Linked DNA regions of Homo sapiens. The protein of the gene in region 3 interacts with the protein of the main gene of each other region in a biochemical or structural test. Each region holds a gene or a part of one and is shown on either strand. Other genes may lie near its edges. The genes, in order: CDC25C, RPA1 and CDK1.

The links.
Region 1: the proteins of CDK1 (region 3) and CDC25C form a complex in vitro, tested with the Homo sapiens proteins (3 studies listed by BioGRID, with this or other methods).
Region 2: of the proteins of CDK1 (region 3) and RPA1, one has a biochemical effect on the other in vitro, tested with the Homo sapiens proteins (2 studies listed by BioGRID).

The regions. Positions count from the first base shown.
Region 1 is NC_000005.10:138,290,138-138,293,868, reverse strand, and holds part of CDC25C (M-phase inducer phosphatase 3), read left to right. Parts: intron 1-1,752; coding exon 1,753-1,899; intron 1,900-3,128; coding exon 3,129-3,230; intron 3,231-3,731. UniProt on the Homo sapiens protein: Functions as a dosage-dependent inducer in mitotic control. Tyrosine protein phosphatase required for progression of the cell cycle. When phosphorylated, highly effective in activating G2 cells into prophase.
Region 2 is NC_000017.11:1,874,880-1,878,610, reverse strand, and holds part of RPA1 (replication protein A 70 kDa DNA-binding subunit), read right to left. Parts: intron 2,951-3,731; coding exon 2,818-2,950; intron 1,400-2,817; coding exon 1,297-1,399; intron 1-1,296. UniProt on the Homo sapiens protein: As part of the heterotrimeric replication protein A complex (RPA/RP-A), binds and stabilizes single-stranded DNA intermediates that form during DNA replication or upon DNA stress.
Region 3 is NC_000010.11:60,784,978-60,788,477, reverse strand, and holds part of CDK1 (cyclin-dependent kinase 1), read right to left. Parts: intron 2,815-3,500; coding exon 2,691-2,814; coding exon of another isoform or gene 2,679-2,690; exon of another isoform or gene 1,409-2,678; intron 419-1,408; coding exon 248-418; intron 1-247. UniProt on the Homo sapiens protein: Plays a key role in the control of the eukaryotic cell cycle by modulating the centrosome cycle as well as mitotic onset; promotes G2-M transition via association with multiple interphase cyclins.

The DNA.
Region 1 (3,731 bases), on a different chromosome or scaffold from region 3:
TCGAGACCAGCCTGGACAACATGGTAAAACCCTCTCTCTATAAAAAATACAGAAATTGGCTGGGCATGGTGATGCGCATCTGTAGTCCCAGTTACTCAGGAGGCTGAGTTGGGAGGATCGCTTGAGCCTGAGAGGCAGAGGTTGCAGTGAGCTAAGATTGTGCCACTGCACTCCAACCAGAGTGACAGCGAGACCCTATCTCAAAAAAAAAAAAAAAAAGATAAGTTTCAATTAGCTAATTAATTCCAAACTCTTAGTAATATGGCTCTTAGCATAATTATTATGGTGTGTTCTAGAGAAGCCCCTTTTGAAATCCTCATCTAGCTTTCCCCTGCCTTCTCAGGGGAAAATTGAAGTTATATGAAGTCCTGTCTGTCATGGAGACCAGGCACCCTACTCCTCAGTGCCTCACCATATCTCCTTTCCTACCCTACCTTTGGTTGATCCATTCATGCATCACTGGCTTCGTGGCCTTGACTGTATCTCTTGGCTTCTTCCTTTTGGGCTTTGGCTTCTGCTACTGCCTAATTATTTCTCCATCTTCCAAGTTAGGCAACCAAGAGAGGGAACCTGATTGGCCTAGATTATTTTTGCTTATTCTAGACCACTAAATAGATGTGTTCAACCAGCAATATGGTCCAGTCATCAGTGTCTGGGGGGTAGGGTGGATGGGGACATAGGGCGATGTTTGGAAGGAGTCTAAGGGTACGTATAATGTGGACGGTACCATCAGCTGGTATCACGAACAAGAGGTAGGACCATGTGTGTGATAAACAACATAATATCCATAGCTGTCATAAAGCAAAATGTTGTTATTCTTATTTCGTTCTTCCAGAAACCATTGATCATCAAGCTGCCTTCCAGTTATGGCTCTCTTATTGTATAGCCCCCCTCCTAAATCAGTCCATAACAGGTAGTGCGATAAGTGTTTAGAGAAGGAGCTTTTGCCTGTTCTCTAGGTGAGAGGTAGAGATCTCAAAGTATGTGGCAACAGAGGATAGAATTGTGGATTAGTTGGAAGGTGTTATCAGAGGTCATTTGATAGACCCTCAACTCTGAATATAGCACCCAAACCATGCCTTTCAAATAAACAACAGTCTATCCTCTTATACTTTAATCTGTTCCTGTGTAAGCAATTCTCAAGGCTAGTTCTTCATGACGTTTGAGCCACTTTTTTTTCCCTGATGGGTTTCATAGTATCCATCCTATAATGGTCAGCATGCTATTTGATTTTAGTGTGTCCTTTTTTCTTGCATGATGCTTCTTTTGCTATTTTTCTTCTTGGCTTTTCATCTTTAGGTTTGTTGAGGTCCTTAAATCCTGATTGTCAATGTCCTAGGATCCCAGAGACAAAATGGACTTATGTTTTTTTTTTTTTTTTTTTTTTTGGTCACATAACTGGAGGGACTGAGCTTGTGTTTGCTTTCTGTTAGAAGAACTGGTGCATCTAAGACAGTCAGCTGCAGAATTTGGTTTGGCTAGTTAAGACGTCCATGGAGATGGAATATCATGCAGTCCAGGTAGAAAGATATTAACGGGCCTATGAAGACAGGTTGCCTACCCAAGGCTTCTCAAACTTGAGAAATCACCTGGGCATCTTGTTAAAATGCAGATTTTAATTCAGTAGGTTTGGGGTGTGGCCTAACATCTGGAAACCTGCATTTCAAAGAAGCTCCCAGGAGATGTTGTTGCTGCAGGTCTGCAGACACACTTGGAGGAGTAAGAACTAGGGGGTTTAATATTCCCAAACAGGTGAGCAGAAGTGGCCTATATCGCTCCCCGTCGATGCCAGAGAACTTGAACAGGCCAAGACTGAAGCAGGTGGAAAAATTCAAGGACAACACAATACCAGATAAAGTTAAAAAAAAGTATTTTTCTGGCCAAGGAAAGCTCAGGAAGGTAAGAACTTTTTAAGATGAAAATCTTGTTCATCTTCTATCTCATGTCTTTGCTTTTCTGGTATGAGGATTGTTTTATTATGCCTTTTTTGTCTTCTTCCTCTTTACTTTTACTTTTTCCTCTTTGTTCTTTCCATCTTTCTGTCTTTTCTACATCTGTATCCACGTGAAATATATATATATATATAAAATATTTATATAACATAGATACATAAAGTATATCTATATTGTACTTTTAGAAATGTTGTCATAGGCCGGGTGCAGTGGCTCACGCCTATAATCCTAGCACTTTGGGAGGCCGAGGCGGGCGGATTGCCTGAGCTCAGGAGTTCAAGACCAGACTGGGCAACACGGTGAAACCCCGTCTCTACTAAAATACAAGAAATCAGCTGGGCGTGGCAGCATGTGCCTGTAGTCCCGGCTACTCAGGAGGCTGAGGCAGGAGAATCGCTTGAACCCGGGAGGTGGAGGTTGCAGTGAGCCAAGATTGTGCCACTGCACTCCAGCCTGGGCAACAGAGCAAGACTCCGTCTCAAAAAAAAAAAAAAAAAGAGAAATGTTGTCATCATACCGTCTTCCCAACCCTTTTTCTTAAGATCTGAAAGAATACAAGGGAACTTTGGTATGGATATTTTACTGCTGTTTTACATGCAGTCTGACAGAAACAACATCATATAGCAGGTTGGTTTTGTGGAAAGCAACTTCTGAAAAACTTAGCCTTTGTCCTTTACCCTCCCCAACTTTAAAAAAATTAAATAGATGGGAGGATCACTTAAGGTCAGAAGTTCAAGACCAGCCTGGTCAATATAGCATGACCCCATCTCTAATAAAAAAAAATAAAATAAAAAATTAAAATTCTAAAATCTTTGGATATTTTATAAAATCAACTTATTTATTTATTTATTTATTTTCCCCTGAGATGGGGTCTCACTCTGTCACCCAGGCTGGATTGCAGTGGCATGGTCTTGACTCACTGCAGCCTCAATATTTATTTATTATTAAAAATAATAAATAAACAAATGGAGTCTCACTCTGTCTCCCAGACTGGAGTGCAGTGGTGCAATCGTAGCTCACTATAGCCTTGGCCTCCTGGGCTCAAGTGATCTCCCTACCTCAGCCTCCCATGTAGCTAGGATTACAGATGTGCGCCACCATGGCCCACTCCATCCACTGGTTTTTAAACCTTTAACATGAGGATTGGGTGTGGGGTGGGAATCTTGTCATCTTCAGGGCTTATGTTTAAAGAAGACAGTCTCTCTGTGTGACATTACTATCACTCAGATGCTGGAGGAAGATTCTAACCAGGGGCACCTGATTGGTGATTTTTCCAAGGTGAGTTTGGCTACACCCATCCTGTATTTCAGTGAGTCATTTTGGATCTGAATCTTCTCTGTTTGCCGAGAATGCCTGGTGTAAATATGCATCCTCACCAAGTACTCTTTGGTAACCTGACAGTGCTCTAGTGGTAGATCCAGGCCCTAAGCCTTTCCAGAGAGAAAGTATTTCTTATTCTTCTGGGAAGATCCAGAACAGGGGAAAGTATGAGACTTTTTACCTTTTTTCTGTTTAAAAACATATTTTAAAATTATGTAAATAATACTTGGTTGTTACAGAAAAAGTAGAAAATGAAGAAATTTATCCCAAACTTTATTAACCAGGGTAATATTGCTTAGTATATACTCTTTTTTTCCCCCCTACTGTCTGTGTAATTGCAGAAGGTACATATTCTTACAGATTTTTTTCTGTGTTTTCACAAACACATATACAAATACAGTTTTTGCTTTTCTACAAAAACAGTTTATATTGTTTTGTTATCTGTTGTTTTTCCTCTCA
Region 2 (3,731 bases), on a different chromosome or scaffold from region 3:
GGTGATTCACCGGCTCCCTCCACAGTGCCCTCTCAGTGACAAACCACTTCACATTCGGAGCCATTGCCAAAAATGTCAGAGTAAGTCATGTTTGCAAGTTGCTTGTGATCTGATTTTCACTTTTGCTTTTCTGTCAGCCAAAATTTACAAGTGGACAAGAAATTTTAGCCAACCACCATACATTAGAGCAATAATTTCTAAAAAAAAATTAGGTTCTAATATTGATTCTGCCATCACACAAACATTTTGGGTGTTATATCAACTTCCAAAAAAAACATCTATTTTTTTCTCCCTATTTGGGAGTCTGAACAAACAGGAAATCTGCAGCACTTTGAAAAGAATGCTGAAGTACATTTTAGGAATTATTATTATTTTTGAGATGGAGTCTCACTCTGTCGCCCAGGCTGGAGTGCAGTGGTGCAATCTTGGCTGGCTCCAACCTCCACCTCCTTGGTTCAGGCGATTGATTCTCCTGCCTCAGCCTCCCAAGTAGCTGGGACTACAGGCACCTGCCACCATACCCAGCTAATTTTTGTATTTTTAGTATAAACGGGGTTTCACTATGTTGGCCAGGCTGGTCTCGAACTCCTGACCTCAAGTGATCTGTGCACCCTGGCCTCCCAAAGTGTTGGGATTACAGGCGTGAGCCACCACACCCGGCAATTTCAGGAATTATTAGCAAAACGAATGGACTGATTAACAGCTATCAAGACTGTCGTACTTCCATGGCATAGGAATTTTGTCTCATCGTCATGGTTTTGTTTAGTTTAAATAAAGCAAATAGAGAATCTGCACAGTCAGAACCCATTTCCCACAAAACCACTCCCATATCGAGGTCACAACTGTGTGCCTTCTGCTGTGTCCCAAAGCTCCACGGCGCTCACAAGCAGGCATCACCTCCCAGTGCTTCCAGTACACCTGCCAGCAAATCAGACTGTTTCCAGCTTCTCCTGCCCAGGAGGCTACTTATATATTTAGAAAACTACTTTCTACTGCTACAAACGCTGTCATTTAAGATCAAAGATTTTATTTATGACCTTAACCCTCTACTCCAGACAGCATCAAAAGACTATGACAGAGGGAAAAGCACAATAACAATCATGCTTCTCTCTGGCCTACTATTATTCTTCACCTCATAGGCCCGCAGAGCTGAGCCTTCTGTTTCTCGGCGAGCCCACTGCCCTCCGCAGAGCTGAGCCTTCTGTTTCCCAGCGAGCCCACTGCCCTCCGCAGAGCTGAGCCTTCTGTTTCCCGGCGAGCCCACTGCCCTCACTCCCCAGCATGACAAACACTCACACTTTCGTCAACCAGTTCTAGGGAGAAAAGCTTCCCTTCCCCTCGGGAGTTGCTCCAGGTACGGATCTGACTTTTGTTGGTAACACGAGCACAAATGGTCCACCTACAAACCAAATCGATCATATTAGTGTATGGGGTCTTCCTTGGAAAAGATCAAGTAAGAAATCATCTTCCTACAGCCTTTCTCGTCTTACGCATATTCCGTTTTCCAACCTGTATTTTAATCCAGCTAATTAAAACCCCAAGATGACACATGGGTTTGACAGTTTACAGAATAAGCAAATAGTAAAACATGCAAAGTGATTTAATACTAACTCATTCTCCTGTCAAATAAGTAAATTTATAAACTCTCTCCCTTCTCCAAAAAGCATCACCAAGGCAACCATATCCCCTTAATGAAAGGTTCTAAGCTGGAAAATACAGTAACACCAGCAATTATATTTTGCCACAGTTTTCAATTATGGGAACTGATATAACTGGTGTTACACTTCTGTCTCATTCGTAACACACCCTGAATAGAATACACGATGTTGGTGGACCATCAGGAAGAACACACTGAAGCAGCATGACCTTAGAGAGAAGCATGGAAAAAGGAGGCACAGGGCACATTAGGTACCCCACTTATAATTTCACAGGGAAAAATATCTTTCCTACGTTACAGAGTATTGAAGAATAAATATAAACATATCTGGAAGGATTCTGAAAAAAGAACTCTAATTTTTAACTATTCAAATTACTTTATTTTGTTTATTTATCTTGAGAGACGGAATCTCACTCTGTTACTCAGGCTGGAAGGCAGTGGCACAATCTTGGCTCACTGCAACCTCCGCCTCCTGGGTTCAAGCGATTCTTCTGCCTCAGCCTCCTGAGTAGCGGGGATTACAGGCGTGCTCCACAACACCTGGCTAATTTTTGTATTTTTAGTAGAGACACGGTTTCACCATGTTGGCCAGGCTGGTCTCAAACTCCCGACCTCAGGTGATCCACCCGCCTCAGCCTCCTAAAGTGCGGGGATTACGGGCATGAGCCACCGCGCCCGGCTTCAAATTAATTTTTGGTGGAAAAAAGTCATATAAAAGAAATTTATGTTCAGGGTATGTTCATGTGTTTAATACAAATAGTGCAGATTATTTTAGCCAACTAAACCAAAGACGAAGTCACCTGTTTATAGGAGAAGATTAAATGCCTTTTGAATTATCAGAAATATTTATTTTTACTCATAAGACTATCAACTGATTAAGCATTAAGTATTTTTAATTTCAAATTCTTTCAAAATGAATGAAACCCCACAGGCTATGGCAGATTGCTATTGTTACTATATTTTCCAACAAGAGTTAAAAGTTTGCCACAATTTGTACCCCTTTCCTCCTCAGCAAAAAAAAAAAAAAAAAAGAGTAAACCCATTCTATTTGGTGGTATTTGGTGGTGACCCTGAAGTTCACGCATAAATAACTCAAGAGTCCATAATAGCTTCTCCGATTTCATAAGTACACTCTGAACTTACTCTATGCAACAACTCACTTGGACTGGTAAGGAGTGAGGCTGGCAATGGGCACCACTTTGGACTGTGTTCCCCCAGAAGTGTGTGACAGGCTGGGACCTGCAGCTTTTCCAAATGTCTTTGAAGCACCATAAGCCTTAGAAACAGTAGAACCTTTAAAAACAAACGCAAACGAAAAGGAGTTATTACTATTCTACTTAGCTTTTTTATAGTAAGCTTTACAATAACTCTAAATTTTGGAGGTGCCACTAGTGAAATCATATAACATGAGAGGCAAAGCTTTTCCTTTTTATATGCAAGAGATACGCAGATCAAATAGAGACTGAGGCTGGAGGCTACAAAAGCAATCTAGGATGAAGGCTGCGCACACAGCAGCTCACTGCTATGTTTGCTGATGTCAGCCCCGAGGTCAAAGTAATAATGGTGACGAATCCAGACACTGCTGTTTCTGAAGGCCGCCCTCTTAAACACTTCTCTTGCCTCAACGGGCAAGATAATGGGTGAGAAAAAGAAAATCAACTTTTGTAACTGGTAAAACTGATGGCAAGGCACTAGTCACATGAAGAAAGACAGGATGTAAGGGACCTATCACAAATAGATCGCCTCCAAATCCCCAGACAACTCCCAGATCTCAATGCGTCTGAAGGACTAGCAAGTCTAGAATGAAGTCTGTAAGAATGAGTTTCGTCGGGTGCAAAGGGCAGGAATCAGTTTTTGGTCAAGATATGTTAAGTGGGTGACCACTAAGACCCTTCCGCCTCCTTAATCCAAACCTAAGCAGCTGCCCTGCGCTGGGAAAGAACAGGGAATCAGGTGAGTTCTTTTATACGCACCACGTATCTGCAAAACTCAACGTCCAAATTCAGAAAATATAATTTAGTTCAGTGATTTCATACCCTCTACATCAAAACATTTCTTCAGAATAGAATTTGGC
Region 3 (3,500 bases):
TCCTCCTGCCATGTCCCTCTAGTACCCTCTACCTTAACAACATAGCAGCTGGTAAAGAAAAAATACTTAAAGGCTTCAGTTCCATTTTCACATAGCATGCAATGAATTTGGAGCTGAGAGGCAATAAATTGATACTGCCACAGAGTAGATATCTTTTATTGAGTTATTTCTTGACTTTCACAAATACAGAAAATAATCTAGCAATCACACACATTCAAAAGCCATCAAAAACCACTATTCCACTTGCCTCATGTGTATATACTCTGATAGGTATTCCAAAAGCTCTGGCAAGGCCAAAATCAGCCAGTTTAATTGTTCCTTTGTCATCAATCAAGAGATTTTGAGGTTTTAAGTCTCTGTGAAGAACTCTTCTAGAGTGACAAAACACAATCCCCTGTAGGATTTGGTATAAATAACTCTGGAAAAAGCAAGTAAAAGTTAGAAACTTAAGCGAAGTACATGATTTTCTAAATAATCTGTTTCAAAGACAAAAAATTAGGACGCAGAGAAATAATTTAATTACTAGAGCTTTCAGGCCATTTTAGGCTAATAAGCATTTGTGGGTGGGAAGCCCATTTATATACAACATCACATTTGTATACCTAAGAAAAGAATCTTCACCTTATAGACATATCTATAGTAATGTGAACACATTTAGTCTTTAAACATTTTTGGTCCCCGATCCTTAAATTACAAATTGGTTTTCTACACAGAAGCCTCTTGATTTTTCTTCTATATACCGCTACCAACTCTATTTTGTATCTTCAATACAGTTGGCCTTTTCTATCTTTCATTTTTACATATTCATTTCCTTCTTGAAAAAATTAGATTCTAAAAGTGATGGCAAAGATATTATGATTATATATTTCAATGGATAAAATTATCATAAAATGCTGCTTAGTTCAGAGAAAAGTGCTTTACAAGACATTTGTTGCCAAAGACAATGTCATTGACATCTGAAGTAGCATGGATATTACAAAAACAAAGTACACAGAAAAATGACTTACAGTTTGAAATTGGAAAGTAATACAGATGCTCCATCTTAGAGGGACAAGTGGTGTTCAAAAAACAAAACAAAACGGATGATCCATCTGGTTAAACTCATTCTAAGCTGAAAATACCTTGTCGAAATGCATTGAACACACCTAACCTACCAAACGTAGCTAAGCGTAGCCCACCTTAATTGTGCTCAAAACACTTACATTAGCATATAGTTGGAAGTGTTGAATACCTCATTATTTATTGAATACTGTACTGAAAGTGAAAAAACAGAATGGTTGTATGGGTAAATGAAGTATGGTTTCTAGTGAATGTGCATCATTTCTGCTTCATTGTAAAACTGAAAAATTGTAAGTAAAACCATTGTTGCCTGTACATAAAACCAGTTAGAACAACTGGCTAGCCATTTGGAAAAAGATAAAGCAGAATCTGTATCCCAGTTTTTAAGTCAAAATAAATCTTAATACAGAATTTAAGACAAAAAAAGTATGTGTGGAAGACAGGACTTACTAAAACTACCAGAAAAATACTGACATGTATTATTCTAATACATTCGATCTTTGAGTGAGGAAGACTTAAGCAAGACATAAAAGCAGAAAGTCCAAAAGTCATGCAAGATTGTTAAAGAACGTATCCTAACGAAAATATAGGCGGTTTATAATAGCTAAATATGAAGTGTTAAATTGTCATGAAATATAAAATTAAAACAATCTTAATATGCCTTTTTCACATAGTTAACAGATTGATAAAACCAAGTTTTGGCAATGATGTACTAAAACAATAAGTATTACACACCATGAGTATTTAAGAGTAAATTGCTACAAGTTTTTTAGGGGGCAACCGGCAATATCTATCAAAATGTAAATAAACATCTTCAATCCATCATTCCCATTCTAAAAATTTATCCTATAAAGTTGCATACGAAGATAAATATCTATAAGGACATTCAGTGCAGTACTGTTAATAAGAGCAACAATAACCAAGTTGGAAAATAATTTAAATGTTCATCAATATGGAAGTGGTTTAATTATATCAAAAATGTAAATAGACATAGGTAGATCTACGTCTTGATAATGTTTTACACAAAAAAGGGAAAATATGTATATATACATATGCAAATAAGTCCACCTTGTGTAAAAAAAAAAATCTTTATATACATACAAAGTGAACATACATACAAGTGTAAGATTACAAATAAAACTAACAGCGCTACCTCTGCAGAGTGGTTTGGTAGAACTGGTGCAAGAATAAGACACTTTTATATACTTCAGTACTTAAAACTATACAATTTTATAATTTACCTGAAATATAATAAATGTCTACAATAAATTGACCAAAACATGTTCAAAACTGGAATAAAACACCTACAACCACCACTCTGCCCTAGGCTTTCATTACTTTGTTTTACATGTATCTGACAGCCAAAGAAAGACCAGACTACCCTAGCTTCCAACAATACCTACCAGTTCTATGTTATCTCAGGCACTAATTTTTACTTACTAGAAACACTATCTGGTAATAACATGGGTATCTCTAACCTGTATAAACTAACCATGAGGGAGAAAAATGAAATACTTTTTCTTATTCTAACACTTTTTCCAAGCATATTCCCACAAAATGCAGGGACTTCTATATATAGTCCCTTTATATCCACAGTGCATAAATATTAATAAAATTAGTTAAGCTTTTACCTTAACAAGTGAAGAATCCATGTACTGACCAGGAGGGATAGAATCCAAGTATTTCTTCAGATCCATGGAAAGAAACTCAAAGATGAGATATAACCTGGAATCCTGCATAAGCACATCCTGAAGACTGGGGAAAAAAAATATATGAGAGAAGAATCCAGCAAACATTTTTGACCTCTGTTTCACAAAATAAAACTCCTTCCATAATTTCAGTTGCTATAATAAAAACTGGGGAAGACGTAGTAGCTTCCCTAATGGAAGAGACTCAAAACTCAAATTTAAGAAAGGAATCTCAGGGCAACTATTTAAAATTAAGCCTTGTACAGGAGGTGCTTATTTATAAGGAGCCTGTATTCAAAAGAACATATCTAGGTTGGCTACTAATTGCTGAGAGCTTATTTTTTCACTGAAGTGAATTATACAAATAAATTTTAAAGTGGTATCTGACCTTAAAAGCTACTTCCAATCTCTAGCCCCAGCCAAGTACAATTAGATTTTAACTTGGACTGTTAGGAAGACAGGTCTCCAAAAACACCCAATGCAAATACTTTAAGGAAAAAAAATCTTTTTCATTTGACCTAGCTACTTTTCTTAAGACTCTAACTAAAGGGTCTTCAGGAACTAGAGCTCCCCAAGTAGGAGAGAGTTGACAAAGCTCTATGAAAACGGCTTTACTCCCATGGCCAATTTACCTTGCTATTCTAGGCCCAAATATTAATCTACATCACCCAGCTCCTCCAACTCTGTTCCTGCTTTAACAGCCTGTTCTCTTTTACATATGTGCGGCATTCTCAACTACCAAAAATAGGGTTC